Linked DNA regions of Homo sapiens. The protein of the gene in region 1 interacts with the protein of each later gene in a biochemical or structural test. Each region holds a gene or a part of one and is shown on either strand. Other genes may lie near its edges. The genes, in order: WIPF3 and ITSN1.

The links.
Region 2: the proteins of WIPF3 (region 1) and ITSN1 form a complex in vitro, tested with the Homo sapiens proteins (one study listed by BioGRID).

What each region holds. Positions count from the first base shown.
Region 1 is NC_000007.14:29,808,073-29,818,500, reverse strand, and holds part of WIPF3 (WAS/WASL-interacting protein family member 3), read right to left. Parts: intron 1-10,428. UniProt on the Homo sapiens protein: May be a regulator of cytoskeletal organization. May have a role in spermatogenesis.
Region 2 is NC_000021.9:33,644,022-33,654,449, reverse strand, and holds part of ITSN1 (intersectin-1), read right to left. Parts: intron 1-10,428. UniProt on the Homo sapiens protein: Adapter protein that provides a link between the endocytic membrane traffic and the actin assembly machinery. Acts as a guanine nucleotide exchange factor (GEF) for CDC42, and thereby stimulates actin nucleation mediated by WASL and the ARP2/3 complex.

The DNA.
Region 1 (10,428 bases):
ATTTAATTATTTTAATTATTTTTATTTTTTATTTTAATTATTTTTTTTGAGATGGAGTCTCGCTCTGTCTCCCAGGTTGGAGTGCAGCGGTGTGATCTCAACTCATTGCAACCTCCATCTCCCAGGTTCAAGCGATTCGCCTACTTCAGCCTCCCGAGTAGCTGGTACTACAGGCATGTGCCACCACCCCAGTTAATTTTTGTATATTTAGTAGAGATGGGGGTTTCACCATGTTGACCAGGCTGGTCTTGAACTCCTGACCTCAGGTGATCCACCCCACCTCGGCCTCCCAAAGTGCTGGGATTACAGGCTTGAGCCACTGTGCCTGGCCGGAAAATTATTTTAATTAATAAGATAATTTAAAAAGGTAGCTCTTCCAAACCAATAAACTCCAAAAAGTATCCCTGTATATAAACAATAACTGCCAGAAAGTACTGTGAAGAAATAATTGTGTTCACAATAGCAACTTTAAAAAAGTATACCTAAGCATAAACTTAACAAAATATGCAAAGACATGAAATAAAACTTCAAAACATTACTGAGAAACAGTGAAGACGTGGAAAAACACACTATAGTCTTGGGTAGGAAGACTAAATATCATACAAAAGTTGATTTTTCTCTATATTAATGTATAAATTTAAGGTGATCATAATGAAAATACTAACTTGTTTGCTTTTTATAACTACTCAAGGTGATTTCAAAGTTTACATGGAAAAATAAAATCATTGGATAATAAACAAATAATAAAGCCATATTCATTAAAACCATTTGATATTGCTATATGGAGAATCAGTAATGGTAATAGACCTGAGAGCCTGGAAATTGACCTAGGTATTTTTGGAAATTTTGGTTATTATTTTAAAAAAAGAAAGACATTGGATATCAGTGGGGAAAAGATAAGTTATTCAACAAAAAGTATTGAGTAAATTGGGTAGTAATCTGGAAAAAAATTAAGTTAGCTAACAATGTAAGGATCTCATGCCTTACATTAAATTGCAAGGAATCAAATTTTTAATTTCTAAAAAAGGAAATTATAATCATACTAAAAATATGAGAGAATTTTTAAAATCTACAAGTCAGAAAGACCTTTCTAAAATGTATAGAAGAAAAGGTTTCTGCAAAGCAATAAATACATATCTATATACATAAAACCACATTAAATAAAGCCCAGTCATACTACAAATTGCAGGGAAATTACATTAAAATAAGTCATATTATAAACTGGGGGAAATTACAGTAAAATAAAAATTATAGTAAAATGGCTGTTTTATCTTCTCTATAAGGTGTTCCTACAATAAAAATCAATAACCCGATAGAAAATACACAAATAGGCCTAAACAGTTCACACATAAGGAAACATATATGGCAATTAAACACATTCAAAGACCCTCAATGTTATTCCTAATGAGAAAATGCAAGTCAAAACCACAATCAGATACCATTTTCACCTATCAAATTGGCAAAGATAAAAAGTTTGATATGTATGTGTTGGAGAGAGTGCAGGGAATCAGACAATTATTGGTAGGAATATAAATTTGTACAACTTCTGTGAAGGGTAATGGGAAAATGTAGCAACATTTAAAAATTCACATTTCAATTCTAGGAATTTATCTTACTGATCTTTCTCACGTGTGAGAAATAATTTGTACAGTGACAAAACTTGCAGCATTTGTTTTAATAGGAAAAGGCTGGAAATAGTGTATATACCTGTCAACTGAAAACTAATTATTAAATTATGGTTCATACATTATACTGACACACTAGGTAGCTGTCACAAAGAATATGGCAGCCCTGTATGTATGAACCTGGAATGATCTCCACATTGTGTTATGTGAAAAAAGCAGGCAGCAGAAAATGTATATAGAATGAGTTTGCAGCTGGGCAGGGCAGCTCATGCCTGTAATCCCAGCACTTTGGAAAGCAGGGGCAGGATTACTTGAGGCCTAACATTCAAGACCAGCCTGGGCAACAAAGCAGGTCCCTATCTCTACTAAAAAATAAAATAAAATAAAATAAAAATAAAAATTAGCTGGTGTACTTGTAGTCCCAGCTACTCAGGAGGCTGAGGCTTGAGCTCAGGAGATGGAGTCTGCAGTGAGCCATAATCAGGCAGGCCACTGCACTCCAGCTGGGCAACAGAGAGAGACTCTGTCTCTAAAAAAATGATGATGATGATGATGATGATAATAATAATAATAATAAAAGAACGAGTATGCCTTTTCTCTGGAAGAATGCATAACTAGGTGGTCTGAGGATAGAGTACAGGAAATATTTTACAGTGAACATCCTTTTTATACTTTTTGAAGTGTCATGTGCATTATTCCTTATTCAAAAAATTAATAAGCAAAAGTTCAGGATTACCACCTCAGAGAAACACTTTATTTGGGACAACTGTGAAGAAGTATTTTTAAAAGTATTTTGAACTATCCGAATTAGGAGATCTCTTTACACCTCAAAGGCAAATACAAATAAAGAAAAAGATTAAAATGGTCTTGACGATTTGGTCTAAAGGAGCAGCTGCTGGAGCCATCGAGAGTAGGACTCAGCACTAAGGGTGGGATTTGCTGTGCTGGCCTTGCACACAGACTTCCTGGGACAGCTGAAATCACCACCACAGCCATCCACAAGTTAGAGGCGACTGACCAGGTGCACTAGGAAAATAGGCAAGAGCAGAATAAAATAATTCTCCCCAAACCAGTCATAACCCCTACAGTTTAATTCTTCTGTTATCACACGGTTAACACACAACAAGGAATGGTTTTAAGACATGATGCTCTATTAGGCATGGATAATTTTAAGTTGGTTCCAGCTGTAGCAGACCCTGTCATTTATTAACTGTGAGAACACAAGCATGCTGGTGAGAAGGTGCACATGTCTGAAATAACACGTGGGGGCTCTGTTCCCCTAGCCACAAAATACTGCCTCCCTAGATCCTATGGACAGGTATCTTGGCTCGTCTTTTTTAGATACATGTAATTCATACGGATACTGTCAAAATGAGTGCAGATCAAACACCATCCCTTAAAACTCACTGAGCATCCATGCATGCCAGGAAGGACAACAAAAGGCATAAACCCTGGCTACTCTTTAGCCTTCCTTCTATGTCCGCAGGCAAATTTCTAACCTCAAGACATACACATTTGGGTGAAAACCAGAACAACAGCAACAAAGAGTCGAGCAAAAGCTTTTAAAATGTGGGGAAAGGGAATTTGAAACTCAGGAAAAATGGTTGCTTGCTTGTCTTGTCTTACTGTTTTTTTTTCCTTTTGTCTCCTCTGACTGTGTATTTCCAAATAGCCTGTCTTCAAGCTTGCTAAGCTTCTCTTTTTCTAGGTAGTTGTCTTACCTATTTCTGACGCTACTTTATTTTTTCTCTGAATCCCTGGAGAGAAGCATGACTGAAACAAAAATGTTTCATTGAAACGTTTAAACGAGTGTTAGAATAAACGGAAGCTTTAAGGGACATCGGAGACTTAAAATCGACTCCTATTGTTAAAAGGAAGAAGAAAGTACACTTTTGGTTGTTTTCCTTGGTTCTACCATGTGAGGGGAAAATGTCCCCTCCTCTAATAGGGCGGTAATAACTTACATCAGCCACATAGGAAAGGGGCCAGTTTCATTTTTGACTACACCTTTATTCCCTGGGCAGTCATGGTTGGTGTTTCAATACTGATGTACATGGTTGGGAGGGTGCTCAGTTAAACAGTTCACTGAGAAAAACAATAGTTCACATGTACTGAGCATATTCCCTACACTAGCAATTCTGATTGTCACTTACATAACTATCTCTCATCCCCCAAAACAACTCTTCACAACAGATGTTATCATCCCCATTTCACAGATGAGGAAATGAAGGCTCAAAGACATAAGGTAATCACCCAAGATCAAATAGCTAGGATGTGACAAAATCAGATCCAACCCAAGTGAATTTGATCCCAAGCCTGTGTGCTTTCCACAACTCCCCCAGCCTTCGACAAGCACATCAGTCTCTGCACAGTCCATGCAATGCAGCAAATATGTACTGAGCTTCTTCTATCTGTTAGACACTAAGCTAGCCATGCAACAAAACTATAAACACGAGTAGCAGGTAATCAATAAATGTTTGATGGATAAATAAATCCATAGCTACATGGTTCCTGCCCACAAATGATAGCTTGTAACACTTACTGAAGGTTACTATGTGCCAGGCACTTTTGTAGAAGGCAGAAAAGGAAGGGAAAAAAAGAAGTAATAATAAAGCACAGGGTATACAAGAAAACACAAAATAAGTTCCAATATATGAGTAATCATAATAACCGTAAGCAGGTTATTACATTTATTTTGGGAGGTGGAGGCAGACAGATCGCTTGCCTAGGAGTTCGAGACCAGCCTGGCCAACATGGCAAAACCCCATCTCTACTAAAAATACAAAAATTAGCTGGGTGTCATGGCACGCGCCTGTAGTCCCAGCTACCTGGGAGGCTAAGGCAGGAGGATCACCTGTGCCTGGGTGGTCGAGGCTGCAGTGAGCTGGGATAGCACCACTGGACTCCAGTCTGGGTGACAGAGCGAAACCCTGTCTCAAAAAAAAAAAAAATTCTCTTACCAAAAAGGCCACATATTGTAAGATTCCGTTTATAGCAAATATCTATAGAAATAAAAAATAGATTAGTGGTTGTCAAGGATTGAGGGGAGGGAGATGAGAAGCGACTATTAACGGGTTTCTTCTTGGGGTGATGAAAATGTCTGGAATTAAATAATGGCGATGGTTGCACAACTGTGAAAATTCTAAAAACCACTGAAATTGTGTATTTTAAAAAGCTGAATCTTATGGTATGTGAATTATAGCTCAATAAAACTGATTTTTAAGAAAAAAACTGCTGTAGCATTATTAATATCAGGAAAAAAGAATCCAGGGCAAAAAATATGAATAGAAATATAAAATAGTTTGGAAGCATACATGAAAATTTACTTAATTGTGCCATAAGTTACGGACAAGTAAAGTGTCAGAAAGAAATGTCTGAGCCAGGTCTTCCATGACTGAAGCAGGGGCGGGTATGAGCAGAGTCCTGCCCTGTGTGAGTGCATGGGTGCTGTGGCTTGGGGGTTGTGGCAGGAAGCTCACAATGCCAGGCTGTCAAATGCTGGGCTTTTGGACCTTATTTTGTAGGTTTTTAAAGAGAGGAAAGATGTTGTTAGACATCTGTGTTCTAAAAACAGCACCGTGGGGCTATGTGTGGAAACTGAATTGTAGGGAGAGGAAGGAGCAAACAGGTATATCAATTTGGGGACCCACATGAGTAAGGATGGGTATTTATTTAAATCAGAGTAACGGCAATGGGATAGAGCCAAGGAGGAAATCAGATTGGATGTCTGGGATGGGGAAGAAGAAAGAGCCTGGGGTGACCCCTTGGGTCCTTGGTGGTCAAGACAATGTAGTGTTAAACGAGACGGAGGAGAGAGTGGGAAGCGGTGGTCAATGAGCAGAGAGAATAGATTTTAATTCGAAACATTTTGAGTTTGAGGTGCTTTTGGCAAATGGAAATTCAGATCTGAAATTTAGAGAAGAAGCAAGGCTGACAATAGCGATTTAGGAATCTTTACACAGGCAGTTGGGTGCATTTCATTCTCTAACACTAATTCCATGAAGATCTAGAAGAGTACAACATTTAAAATTACTGAGTCACCTTCTGTAATTTCTAATTAAGTCAGACACATGGCTAATAATGGAAGTCAGTCAGGTGGCTGATACTGCTAGCTGCCTACTCAATAACCATTCCCTCTTCTTCCTCACAGCAGAAGCCCTAATTTGAGTGATGGGGTTGCAATTTACCCAGCTAAAAATATTTGATTTATCAGACTCTAATATATTTAGAACAACCCTGTGACACTGTTCTGGCCAATGAGATGCAGGTGGAAGTCCTAGGGAGTGCATCACTTCCTGAATAAAAAGGTAAAACCTCACTAATAGAAGGACATTAATTCCTTTATCTATTTGCACCTTCCTTGTCTTCTTGCCTAGACTGCAGATGGAAGCCTAGAGATACTGCAGCCATATCGTCATCATGAGGCAACCAGATTTAGGATGAAGTCCTATAGGCTAAGTGTGGTGAAGCAGGAAGATGGATGGATACTGGTCTCAGATAGCTCCTGCACAGGCCCCAGACTGCCTTTCTTAGGAGTCTAATTCCACAAGACAAATAAACAAATCCATGTAAGCCAGATTTGGGTGTGTGCACTGGTTTGGTTTTGTTTACTTTGGCAGCTGCTACAATTCACATCTGGATATATATACGGGAGTGGGGAGCTTAAAAGACATGAGCACTATTATTTCAATAATAAAAAATGTTTAAAAAATAAAATATTTATGCTTTCTAGCACTGGATTTTTCTTTTTCCAAGTAGGTAATAAAAATTTTCAGCTAAAGGGAAATTATGGACTGCTGGTATTAAGAAAATTCATAAATACATAATCATCTGTTAATGAGCACATGTGCACAATGACACCCTTTGGACTTTTCCTGGATGAGGTAAACTGATTTGGCTCATTTAAATGGCTTCAGCCAGAGCCAAAGTTCTTAAAGATGAGACTGTTCACTACCTGACTCTCATAAGAATTACAATCTTTGGAAGGAAGGCTCTGGCTCTTCCAGGCACTCAGTAAGCATAGCTAAGAATACAGAATGTCCCTGAACCACAGCATTTTGGCCCTGCAAAGAGCTTTTACTGAGCTGTGTGGGATTATGTCTCCGGAACTGCAGTCAATAAAGTTCTAGGAAACACTTACTTTTGCCTTCTACCACAGCACTTCCATTGTCTTTATGGCAGGGATGATGTTGAAGACTTAGGTCTCTATGGCAACAGTGAGTGCATTGAACACCTGCCAGGAGAAAGTTATCCCAGGTTTCAGGACCAGGAAAAGCTGTGTAACCAATCTGTTTTTATCTCATGGTCACTGTGGATCAGGTAACTATTTATGTTTTCTTTTTTGTTTTGGCTGCTGGGAAGCTCTGGCAAATTTTTACTCCCACCTCTGGAAACTATCCACAACTTATGATCTATTCTGGTTCTGTAAATTACCTCTGATTTTATCTCACTTTCTAACCCGTGTGTTCCCTTTACCTCAGTTTCATTATCTATTAATTTTATGTTGTTTGCTATTTTTGTAAACTCCTTGAACACTTTATGGAACACGGAACATTTAAGGCAAACAATTTTTAAAAGCATCAGATCATCATCATCATCATCATCATCATCATCATCATCATAATGGCTAATTGACTGAACATTGCTATGAATGAGGCACTGTCCTAAGTACCAAATCTATCTTATGGCTGGGCAAGGCAGATCATGTCTGTAATCCCAGCACTTTGGGAGGCTGAGGCAGGAGGATCGCTTAAATCCAGGAGTTTGAGACCAGCCTGGGCAGTATAGTCAGATCCTGTCTCTACAAAAAATAAAAAAAAATTAGCCGGGCATGGTGGCACGTGCCTGTAGTTCCAATTCCTCAGGAGGCTGAGGTGGGAGGATCACTTGAGTGTGGGAGTTGGAGGCAGTAGTGAGCTGTGATCAAACCACTGCACTCCAGCTTGGGCAACAGAGCAAGACCCTATCAAAAAACAAAAAAACAGAATAAATCTATCTTATTAGCCTTAAACATGAGATAAATACTATTATTATCCTCATTTTCTAGATGAGAAAACCAAAACACAGAGAGGTTAAGTAATTTGTCCAAGATCATACAGCAAATAAATGATGCATGTAAGATTCATGCAAAATAGTCCAGGGATTCTGACTTACATAAGTTATACAAAAGAATAAATAATTTCTTAAAGAAGCAGAGGCTTTTTGATTTTATAGGCTGAGCCCTAAAGGAGATAACTATTGGAAATCTCATCCATACAGTTATGCCTGATGGAGCCATATTAACAAAAGGGAATGAGACAGTGAAAGTTAAAACAACAGATAAAACACAACAAATAATTGTCTTTTGATCTTGGAACATACTTCCAGATATTCATTCATTCATTCATTCATTCATTCATTCACTCACACAATTACTGATTCCTCCACTTACACAGTCCTTTAATTCATTCAACAACCTTTAGGGAGTACCCCTCACTTGCCAGGCATGGGGCAGGTGCTATGCTGGGAATGGAGATGAACACAGTTCCTGCCTTCCAGGAGCTCAGGTGCAATAAGAGAGAGTCAGGTAGGTTGGGGACACCTTGGGGTTATGAGTGGGTTGATAAAAGACCACAGCAGGGTGCAACATGATCATTCTGAGAGTAAGTCAGCCTTCGGCTTCTGTCTCCCCTTTGATAAAGGAGTATGAAGAATCAGCTCCCTATAGGGCTGCTGTAGTGATGTCCTACATATAAAGCTCTTAGCCTAGCCCCGGGCAGGGCTAGCTAGTCATTAGCTCTTAAGGAACAGTGGATGGCAACCTGGGCACCTTGCTCAGACACACATGTGCACTCACACAGACACACGTCCTCAGAAACTCAAGCACTGAGACTGGCTACTGCCTCCTCCTAGCTAACCAAGAGCTGACTCTCACAGTCCATGTGCAGGCCTGGCACTCTCTCCTGGATGCCACCATCCTAGATGCGGTGTTAGCTGGAAAACACCACCCACATAGGATGAACATTCCTTCAAGATGCACTTGAAAATCTTCCTCCACAGTGCCTGGCCCACATAATGCCCGCTGGGCATTTTTGTCACGTTTACTCTGCTTTAGTTTACCTCCTTGGCACTTGAACACCGCAGTTCACTACACAATTCCCCTGCTGCATAATGGTCGGGTTCCCTCTTGAACAGGTCTAAGGAAAGACGCAGCTAGAATTGCAAAAGGGGAGTTTCAAGTGCCCTACTGGCTGAAGCCAGTGAGAAAACACGTGTGCTGCCCCTGCCCAGCATCGGCTGGGGAAAGGCATGCCTCTTCGGTTTTGTACAGTGGCTAAATAAAAAGCAATTAATCACTTTCTCACCAACCCTAACTCATATTTAATAGTTCCCCTCGAAGTTTGTTTTGTCATGCTGTCGGCAAAGTCAGTCAAACATTACGATTCTTTTCTAAATATTCCAGCAGCCAGATGGCAGAAGCACCACTGTGACAAGGCAAACTTGCCTAAAGATAACTTTGTGATGCAGAACCATGCTCGATGGCACTGGGCTGAGGGGACTCACCCAGAGCTATTTCTAAATTGCTCCCCTTAACCCACGTTCTTTACACCAAAACTTCCTAAGACAAACATTCAACTCTGCAACTTGAAACTGGTGGTAAAACAAAGACGTTTCTACCTCTTTAAGTTCGGAATATTAGGCAGAAAAATAAAATCACTAGAAGACCACACATCAGGACAAAGTTCTCAGGATTTCTCCGTAGATTTAAGGCTACTGTACCCTAATGTTTCAAATATTTCTGCACCAAAGTTCATATATATTAAATATTTATAACACATTTGCTAGAAAACACATTTCCTTCCTTTTGCTGAGTTATTTGTGTAGGTTTCTTTTTTAAAAACTTCAACATTAATAAACATATTTATAAATTCTAGAATGTAAAAAAGTTGACTGCCATCCTGGTGAAAATTCTATGTTTCCCTCTACTGTTAATCACATTTTGTTTTCTCGGATCTTTCCTAGGTTATATTCTTTATTCTTTGTGTATGTGTTGGAGTGACTGCAAACTCGCAACCTGTACTATATGGTTTCTGAACAATAAGTCTCCTAAAAAGAGCGTTGCCAGGCTAGACCAGCTGGCTTTCCCCTGTTCTTATAACTGTATGTTCTTAGACACACACACACACACACACACACACACACACACTTCCTCCATTCCTTCTGCTGCTGGGTAACTGCAATCTGTGACACAATGTCACACTCACAATTACGTGAAAACAGAGACTCCTAAAGGAACAAAAAGGGGGCAATGGCAGGAAGCCAGCCTACAAGTGTCTGTCACCCTGACCGCTCTGCCCCGATTCAGGTGGCCACAAATTGCCTGTTGAAGGTTGCCTGTCTAGAATTTGAAGTCTGTGTGCCCAGGCTGTTACCCTGAGTAAGTAATTTAACCTCTGTGACCTTTTATTTTCTCATCTGTAAAAAAGGCACAATAACAATATCTCTGTTAAAGAATTGCTGCGAATCACAGGAGGTGATGCACATAAAGGCATCTGCAGTGTATGTTTCATTTCCAGTTACTTCTTAACTTTCTTTTGCCCCTCCTCGCCACTTCTTTTCTGATTTGGTTTTTGTGGTTTTTAAATGTATCTTTGAAATGCATTAGCTGGAAAACTGCAGCAATCTGTGTGTTACCACAATGAGTGGACTTTAGCATCACATTTTTATTTACTTTTTCACTGAGGTAGAATTTACGTTAAGTGCACAAGTCTCAAGGGTATAACTTCAGTAATTCTTAGGTCAAGGTGAGAAGCATTTCTAGCAT
Region 2 (10,428 bases), on another chromosome or scaffold:
ACGGAACTAATAACTAACGTTGATTCTAGACTCTTGCTAAGAGTCTAGAGTATAACAGAACTTAAGATAATTAAAGTGAATTTAAAAAATCAAAGGCCAGGTGCAGCGGTTCATGCCCGTAAGCCCAGCACTTGGGGAGGCTGAGGCGAGAGGTCCACTTGAGTCCAGAAGTTCATGACCAGCCTAGGCAACACAGCGAGATCGTCTCTCCAAAAAAAAAAAAAAAAAAATTAGCCAGGTGTGGTGGTGCGTGGCTGTGGCTGTAGTCAAAGCTACTTGGGAGGCTGAGGTGGGAGGATTCCTTGAACCTGGAAGGTTGGGGATACAGTGAATCATGGTCATGCCACTGCACTCAGCCTGGGTGACAGAGTGAGACAAAAGAGAGAAAGAAGAGACAAAGAGAGAAAGAAAGAGAAAGAGGAAGGAAAGAAGGAAGGAATTAAAGGGTAACAAGCATTCATCACTGTTTTAGAAGTTCCATGCCAATAAACAAATACAAGTTATGGTGGCTCATGCCTATAATCTCAGCACTTTGGGAGGCTGCGACAGGAGAACTGCTGGAACCCAGCAGTTCAAGACCATCCTGGGCGATATAACAAGACATCATCTCAAAAAAAAGAAAGACATTGGCCGGGCGCAGTGGCTCACGCCTGTAATTCCAGAACTGTGGGAGGCCGAGACGGGCGGATCACGAGGTCAGGAGATCGAGGCCATCTTGGCTAACACGGTGAAACCCCGTCTCTACTAAAAATACAAAAAATTAGCTGGGCGTGGTGGCTGATGCCTGTAGTCCCAGCTACTCGGGAGGCTGAGGCAGGAGAATGGCATGATCCCGGGAGGTGGAGCTTGCAGTGAGCTGAGATCGTGCCACTGCACTCCAGCCTGGGCAACAGAGCGAGACTCTGTCTCAAAAAAGAAAAAAAAGAAAGAAATACAAGTTAAAAATAAATTATAAATTCTAGGAATGAAAATGGTCCTTTATAAACATGATGGTCTGTATGAAAAACTCGAGAATTTTTAAAAAAGCATAGAAGTCTTAGAGGGCTGAGATTCTATCTTGGTTCAAGGCTACTCACCTAGAGCAATGCCAGGCATATACAGCGTGTACTCAAACATTCACTGAACAGCTAACTAAACTCAGAACTTCCCAATCACGGCTGGGTGCGGTGGCTCACGCCTGTAATCCCAGCACTTTGGGAGGCTGAGGAGGGCAGATCATCTGAAGTGAGGAGTTCGAGATCAGCCTGGCCAACATGGCGAAACCCCGTCTCCACTGAAAATATAAAAATTAGCTGGGCATGGTGGCACATGCCTGCAGTCCCAGCTACTCAGGAGGCTGAGGCAGGAGAATCACTTGAACCCGGGAGGCAGAGGTTGCAGTGAGCCAAGACTGTGCCACTGCGCTCCAGCCTGGGCAACAAAACACGACTCTGTCAAAAAAAAAAAAAAAAAGAACTTCCCAGTCACAGTACTTTAAGTGGATTATAGTTGTGCCAAAGATACTGATGCCCTCAGTTTTGGGGAACGATGCCTACAATTAGTACTAATTATTGCTACTAACACAGTACTAATATTATCTGGAATCACAAAGACTGAGAAGCATTGAATGCAAGACCAAAACATTGCTGGAACTTAGAGTTCCAGCAAGACAAGTTGGTTACCAAATAAATTTGTGTAAGGCCAATAGGCATTTAATAATCATTCACACTCATTGGTAATACAGAAAATAATGCAAGTTAAAACAAATAAAATTGGCTAAGATGTTTTTGGAGATGGTTTTACCCAGTCCTGGTAAGAGAACAGGAAACAAGTACCTTTTACATGATAGGGGGAATGCATCTGAGAGCGGTATGCTGCAAAGGCTTTACAAACAACTTTTGGTCCAAGAATTTTACCTATCTTTATTAAAAAGCAAAAAGACAAAGAATCTATAGGTCCAGCAATAAGTGACTGATTACATATATGACGATGTAGCAAAAAAGGCTGCAAATACAACACATTAAGTGAAAAACACAGGCTACAAAACTGTACGTACCTGAGGCTACAAACTGGCAAGGCAACGAAGACTGAATCCAGCCCTCAGGTATGCTTTGAACCCCAGTGTGTTAACAATAAAAAGTGTGGCCCACATAAAAATCAGAAGATTTCATATTAAACCCACATTCTCCTAAATAACTATAAGGTGTAGTAACACCAGGACGCATCCTCCCAGAACCACAAAGGTCTGGGTTGACTGGCCCTGGACCGTCCTGCCACCTTCAGTGCTCGTGGTCCCTAACAGGCCTTCAACTCTCCCGGGCTAAGTAGCTTCACACCAGGCACCTGCTGGGTAATTTGAGCATGTTGACCTTCACAGGGTATTAACAGTCATTATCACTGGATGGTAAGATCTTGGTAGGCTTTTAGTCTTCTTTCCTTATATATGTTTCCAAAAGTTTTCTTCAATAAACATGTATTCCTTTTGTAGTAGGAAAAAACATGTTATTTTTTAAATTACCAAATCACAACTGTAATATTAATCACTTCATCTACCAAGATCAAAACAACTAAAGATAACAGATAATGACTGTGGTTTAAAACTAATTGAACTAAGAATTAAAGTAAGGTTACGATTACTGCAGGATTTCCCTCCCTTTGATACTAATTAAAACTCCAGATTGGACAGACAACAGCAGCATTTTACAAAACAGATCTTCCTCAAAGAGAACAGCTTCTATAGACAATGCAAAAGCCTGCTATTTTAAGGATTCATTCCCATACATTTAAGATTTCTTTCACTAAAAAAAGGAAACAAAATCTCTCCTATAGAAACCTATATTCATAACCTCAATTAATTTGTTTATAAAGCTAAATAATTCTTGATCTTTGTCTTACACTGCTATTTCATTTGATCAATAGTAATAATTTTATGGGGTTCTCTTTTCCTCAGAGAAACTCCGGAAAGTTTACACAAATTACCATTCATCTCAAACCATTCCTGAGACCTCACAAAGTACACCACATTATCCTCATCACAAAGATAAAGCAGAAGGCTAGGTAGAAACGTCAACATCCATAGACAGCTGGAAGCCGAGTCAATGGAATGTTCCTCTCTATCCATCCTCCAATCCACTCCCACATGATACTCAGAAGGAGATTTTTAAACAAAAGCACATCATGGGACTCCCCTGCTTAAAACTTACATTAACTTCCTACTTCCCAGACATTCAGAGTCAAGTCCCAAGTGGGCCTCTCTCCTTCACTCCCCACCTGTCTCTCTTGCCCCCAGCACTTGCTCTGTACCAGCTCAGAGCCCTCGGGCCTCCAGGCTTGAAGGACCTCAAACACTCCTTGATTTAATAAACCAACAAATAACCCTTGCGTGTCTGCCAGGCAGCAGGCGCTGCTCTAGGGCCTGGGGCTAGCCCCCTGGACAACAGCGATACACTCCCTGCCCTCATGGAGCTAACATCCTGGTAACCCCGCTACCAAGTTTCTTCCTCCTGTAATCATTTAAAGAATATTAAAACAACAATTGTAATAACTGTATCTGAAGGGGTCTAAAAATAAGCAGTGCTACCTATAATACAGATCTATTCTCATTTAATGACTTTAATATTAGCTCTTTATATTAAGTGCAGGAAAGAGGAAAAATAAAGGCAAAGGGAACTACTATTCATTGAAATCTGCTATATACCAAGAATGGCACTCATTTTCTTGTCAATTTTTCAAGGTTTCTCTCATTACTAGCTATATAGCTTTCATTCATCAGTGGCCAAAATGCAATTCTCCAATTCTGCAAGACTGGGGCAGCTGAGTTTCAGATAACTTCAGAAATTGAAAGATAACTTGGTTTTAAAATCTACTATCTTAAGTTCAGAGCGGAAATGAATTGATTTTTGTGAAACACTGGATCCACAATGAACACTCCTATTATAGATAACACACTGGAATGATATATGTGTTTACACAACATTTTGTCTGTGTTAGAACAATAAAACCGGTCAGGAAATTTGCCTTGCAGAGAAGTAATTAACCCTGTACACACACACAGGCAAACAGACACACACACACAAAACGAATGGCTCCAATTCGTTGGAGCTCCAATTCCAATCTTGTTGCAGTGCTTTTATGGTAAGAGTCAGCGTCCTTCTTAACTAGGTTGGTTAAAGCCTGACACTAAAAGCCAGCTGACCTCGTCCACGTCCATGAACTGTATCCATGTCTTGCAAATGCATGCCACCAGACACCAGAACGATTTGCAGACATAATGCAAGGAGGAACACATCAAATGCTCACCAGTGCAACAGAGGAGCAAGAGCATTGTCCTCCTGTATTAAAAAGAGGATGTTTAATTTTAACCACCAAGGGTAAAATTCTGACCACTTGCTGTGTTGCTATGACCTTGTTATTTTCTTTCTTTCTTTTTTTTTTTTTTTTCTGAGACAGAGTCTCGCTCTGTCGCCAAGGCTGGAGTGTAATGGTGCGATGTCAGCTCACTGAAATCTCCACCTCCTGGGTTCAAGCAGGGAATTGAAGCAATTCTCCTGCTTCAGCCTCCCAAGTAGCTGGGATTACACTTGTGCGCCACCACGCCCGCCTAATTTTTGTATTTTTTAGTAGAGATGGGGTTTCACCATGTTGGCCAGGCTGGTCTCAAACTCCTGACCTCATGATCCGCACACCTCGGCCTCTCAAAGTGCTGGGATTACAGGTGTGAGCCACCACGCCCGGCCAGACATTGTTATTTTCACATTCGAATTCACTTGAATTCAAAATTCTGCCACAGCCCTCAGCTCAACTCCTGGCTCCACCACTCAATGAAGGGCCAAACGCACTACCACATGACTCCAGCAGACCCCATACCACACAAAAACAATGACAGGTTTTGGTGACCAACTGAAAACTGAGCTAGGCAGCCAAACTCAGTCCAGAGAGCTGAAGCCAAAACAATTTCACCAATGTTCTCTCTGGGCAGTAAGCTAATAAAGCAAGCTACCTATCATTAATTCTACTAGAAAAACACCGAAAGAGCAGTGATGCATTAAAATAGATTAACTTGCTTAAAATTCACTTTCTTAGAGAGCTACGAACTTTAGGAACAAAACTGGAGTGACATTCTACCATCCCATGTATTAATAAAAATGTTTTGGTTTACTTTTCAGTGATCTCCCAGTGGATGATATCTCTCTACACTGAGGCCTTCACATTCAGGAAGCAAACTTCCTTAGGCCACTTTCTATCTCCAAAGTGGCCAACATTCACATTCAGGAAGTAAACTTCCTTAGGCCACTTTCTATCTCCAAACTCGCCAACATGGAACTACCTGGACACACACACCCAGCTGTCTCCCTCATCACACTTCTGTACAGTCTTGCGTTTCTAAGACAAGTCCACATCACAAGTGAACTGCCTTTTCAAATTTCACTAGTCTTCTCTAGCACTCTAATCCTGTTTTTCATGCAGGGGTACTTTAGGAAAACCACTACAGAGTAAAGGATAACAAGACTACTTTAAGGATGAATGCTGGACAGTTGATGAGGCTAATTTTTCTCTCTCTCCTCTTTCTTTCTCCTTCCTTCTCTTTCTCTTTCTCTCCTTTCTTTTCTCTCTCTCTTGCCCTGCCCTCCCCTTTCTTTTTTGACAAGATCTCACTATGTTGCCCAGTCTGGAGTGCTGTGGCATCTGCAGCCTCCAACTTCTGGGTACAAACAGTCCTCCCACCTCAGCCTCCCTAGTAGCTAGGACTACAGGTGGGCATCACCTCACTGGGCTACTTTTTAAAAAATTTTTTGTAGGGTCTTGCTATGTTGCCCTGGCCAGTCTGGAACTCCTGGGCTCAAGTAATGCTCCCACCTTGGCCTCTCAAGTATTGGGATTACAGGAGTGACCCACAGCACCGGTCCCAAAGCTAATTTCTGAGCTAACTTATGTGACCAACTCTTCAGTGAAAGGGATTCAAATTTGTGCCCCACCCAGTTTATATATTAGTACATGTCAGAGAACCTCTTAGTTACTCCACAACAGCAATCGAGAACATAAAAAGTACCCAAATGCCTATAAAACATGTCTAGGAAACAGGCTAAGAGTTTTGGACTCTACAGTAAAAATCTGCTCAGACACTTGCTGGCTCTCTAATTGCTGGTACCCTAGTTTCCAAGGCATCTGTAAGATGAGAGTTTTTTGTGAAGTGAGTTAATGTATATAAGATGCTGCAAAAGAACTTAATCGACATTAGCTATCACTATTACCCATGCACAAGATTTCTGAGTTTCCATATCACACTACTAAACACATTATACTAACAGTCCATTCTTCTTCCTAAAAGCAAAAATTCACTAGGTTTGTCACTGGTTAAGTCATTCCATAAAATGGGGGAAGGTACAAGGGGCTGGGAGACTGGAAGTCTGATATACCATGGTAAGAGTATAAAATGATACAATCTTTCTAAATGACAAATTGGAAATACGGATTTAAAAAATCCTAAAATTTAGCATAGGCTTTGATCCTGCAAATTCCATTTGTAGAAATTTATCCTAATGAAAATAATCTCACAAGTACATTCAGAGACATATGTAGAAGGACAGTCACTGCAGGGTTATAAGTAACCGTGGAGGAAAAATAAACAAACTAATGTCTAATAAAAATAAATTGGCTAAACCACCAGAGATCCATGACTGGGTGTGGTGGCTCACGCCTGTGATCCCAGCACTTTGGGAGGCTGAGGCAGGTGGATCACCTGAGGTTAGGAGCATGAGACCAGCCTGGCCAACATGACGAAACCCCATCTCCACTAAAAATACAAACATTAGCCAGGCATGGTGGCAGGCATGTGTAATCCCAGTTAATCAGGAGGCTAAGGCAAGAGATTCATTTGAACCTGGGAAGCGTAGGTTGCAGTGAGCCAAGATTGAGCCACTATACACCAGCCTGGGTAACAGACTGAGACTCCGTCTGAAAAAATAAAAATTAAAAAAAAAACTACCATAGATCCATAAAACGGAATATTATTTGGTTACTAAAATTGTTATAATGCAATATATATATAGGAAAAGACACTCATGACAAGATGTTAAGCAAAAAAAAAGCAGGTTACAACCATATGTATAGCAAGATCCCATTTTTGTTACCAGAAATTGTATATGAATAGCCATATGCACACACACAAAAGGATTTGAAGAAATATGTATGCAGGTAGTAGACTTACGGGTATTTCATAGTTTTCTACTTTATACTTTTCTGTATTTCAATTTTTCTACCATAAAACAATTATCTTTTTAAATACAAAGAATATTAGTTGCTCATCATAAACTATATTTTAACCTAAAAGAGATCAGGAGATTTAGTATTTATTTTCAAAACTTATATTAATACATATTTGATAGCTTATTAAATACTTTCAATGTTTAGTCTAGTCATTCAATTAAAAAAATTATACATAGTACCAAGGAGTTAGCAATAAACTTTTTTTTTTCTTTTTTTTTTGAGACAGGGCCTTGCTCTGTCACCCAGGCTAGAGTGCAGTGGCACAATCATAGCTCACTGCAGCCTTGATCTCCTGGGTTCAAGTGATTCTCCCACCTCAGCCTCCGAAGTAGCTGGGACTATAGACGCACACCACCAAAGAAACTTCTTTTTTAAGCAACAGATTTCTACTTACTATCATAAAAGTCCAGTAGTACAATAATTAAATGGGTTAGCTTTTGAGTTTTAGGTATTTTTATACACCCCAATTCTTTATCATCACTGTAACTACCATTTATTAAGTGGATGTGTCTCAAAAACTTAGGTAAGCACTTAGAAGTATGTGAACTTTATTATTACTATTTCCATGTTCAGCTGAGAAATGAGGCATTGAGAGGTTAGATCAAACTCCCTGACTATGTGTGGTCAAACACAATATTCTCCAAAGTTTGAGCTCTTAACTACATAATATCTATGGTGCCCTGTGGTGAACTCTTGAAAAGAAGGTGTAAAGGTCAAATTTTATTAGTATGAAAAGTGAAATTGGAAAACATAACAATTTTCTCTATTTGCTAGAAACCAATTTTTATAGCAGTATGTTGGACTTATGGTTTATAAAATGATATTTTGATATAAGACAATATACCAAATATAAGTTTGATATATGATTTACCACTACACTGTGACTTAAATTTACATTTTGACTCTCTAAGCAAATGCTTTGTTCTGAATCTTCTTTCTGGCTAATCACCTTGAGCACACTACGCCTGGGAAAGGCTCTCTCCTTTCTAAACTAACCAAACTTACAGAAGTCACTGGGGTATAGTGCTTGTGGCTCCTAATTTATAAAATCAGTGACTACTAAAAAAAATTTTTTTGTAATATGCTGGGCTTTAATATGCCACTAACTGATAGATTAATTTGACAAGTAACTTTTAAAAGATTGGCCTCGCTGCAATGTAATTCACGTATTCACTCAACAAATGTTTAATTGAGTTCCTCCAGGCACTGTTTTAGGCCCTGGAGGTAGAGGGGTGAACCAAAGCCTCTGCCTTCTGAAAGGTGTACGACAGGTAAAATTACGCAATCACAGTCAATTGTTTTTTATTAGCAGCCTAAGGGATAAAACTTAATCTGCTACTTGAAAAACTTTCTATCCACTTCAGGAGCTAGTCTCAGGAGATGCTCAGAGAGAAGGAAGCCAGTGGTTTCCAACTTCCCTATGCAGGAGAAATTCCTGGAGAATGCATTAACAACACCAATTCCAGGGCCCCACCTCTAGCTGTCTGATTCTGAAGCGAGGTGACAGAAACCCGTATTTATTTTTATGTATTTATTTACTTACTTACTTTTTGGACACAGGCTCGCTCTCTCTGTCGCCCAGGCTAGAATGCAGTAGGGCAATCATGGCTCACTGCAGCCTCCATCTCCTGGGCTCAAGCGAACCAGATCCTCCCACCTCAGCCTCTAGAAAAGCTGGGAATATAGGCACGAGTCACTAAGCCCAGAATATTAAAAAAAATTTTTTTTTAGAGACCAGGTTTCCCTGTGTTGCCCAAGCTGGTCTCAAATTCCTGGGCCCAAGCTATTCCTACTTCAGCCTCCCAAAGTGTTGGGATTACAAGTTTGATCCACCATGCCCAAAACCTATATTTTTAACAAGTGCCTCCATTAATGCTGATGTAAGTGATCTGAGGCCCACACTTTAAGAAACCCAACCAGTTAAGTGGAGCCATTCAGGAGGAAGTGATCATTCAGAAGGGAACAGCTCTATGGCAGAAGAATTTGAGGTGCATAATATAATCCCAACTCTCGTGTCATCAATTCTCTACAACTCACAAATGTTAGCAAATTAAAAAGATAATTTAGAGTAGAGGAATTTGGACGAAGCATGGTGGCTCATTCCTCTAATCCTAGCTCTTTGGGAGGCTGCCTAGGTGGGAGAATCGTTTAAGGTAGGCGTTTTAGACCAGCCTGAGCAACACAGAGAGACCCTGTCTCTAGAAAAAATTTTAAAATTAGCTGGGCATGGTGGCGTGCATCTGTGATCCCAGATACTCTGGAAGCTGGGGTGGGAAGATCACTGGAGCCCAGGAGGTCGAGGCTGCAGTATGCCAAGATTGCGCCACTGCACTCCAGCCTGTGACATAGCCAGACCCTGCCTCAAGAAAAAAAAAAAGGAAAGGAATTTACCAGCAGCTCCTCCTTAATCTCTTACAGGAGGCTTGATAGTTTGTCCCAGTCTAGGCACTTGGGGAAAAGATAAACTTGAGCAGAGGTTCTACTACCAATATTGAAGATAAGCTTTAGGGAAAAGAAAATTGCTAGTCGACTGCCAAAAAAAAAAAAAAATGCTAACAGCGACAAACATTTCACAGAACTAACTTGCTACCACTCATTTTATGCCCTATTTCACAATGCTTAGTATCTGTGCAATCCGCAGGGTTCCAAAGTACATTAAAAATTTGTTCATTTCCTCTCTTACTCAGGCAGAATAATAAAAGAGTTTTGTGACGGTACCATGCGCCGTAGCAATTTCAACAGAAGCATTCCTAGATAAAGAAATACCATTTTTTTAAAAAAAGATCATACTATCAGAAATGATCTCCACTGGACTACTTAAAGGTGTCTGAAATAATTTTAACACCATCATCAAATTAGTGTCCCTCACTTCTTAATTTATATGACTTAAAAGTCCCTGGATTCTTTACAAACCCATCTGCACTAAGGATTTTTCTTTCATATGTATGTATTTTTCAATGTTTTTACTTACAAGGAAACTCCCATCAAAATAACGTTTCAAGCACACCAGTAAAAGAAATTTTAAACAGAAACATATTTTGTTCTCAGAGATAAACTAAGAAATAATAACTATGAAGGATGTTTAAGCTTCTGCACTCTCAACCTTAAAGTCATCTAAAAATAAAGGTATCCCAACAAATACATTCCTCCTATTCATATTTTGGGGGTTTAGAGTGGCACCAT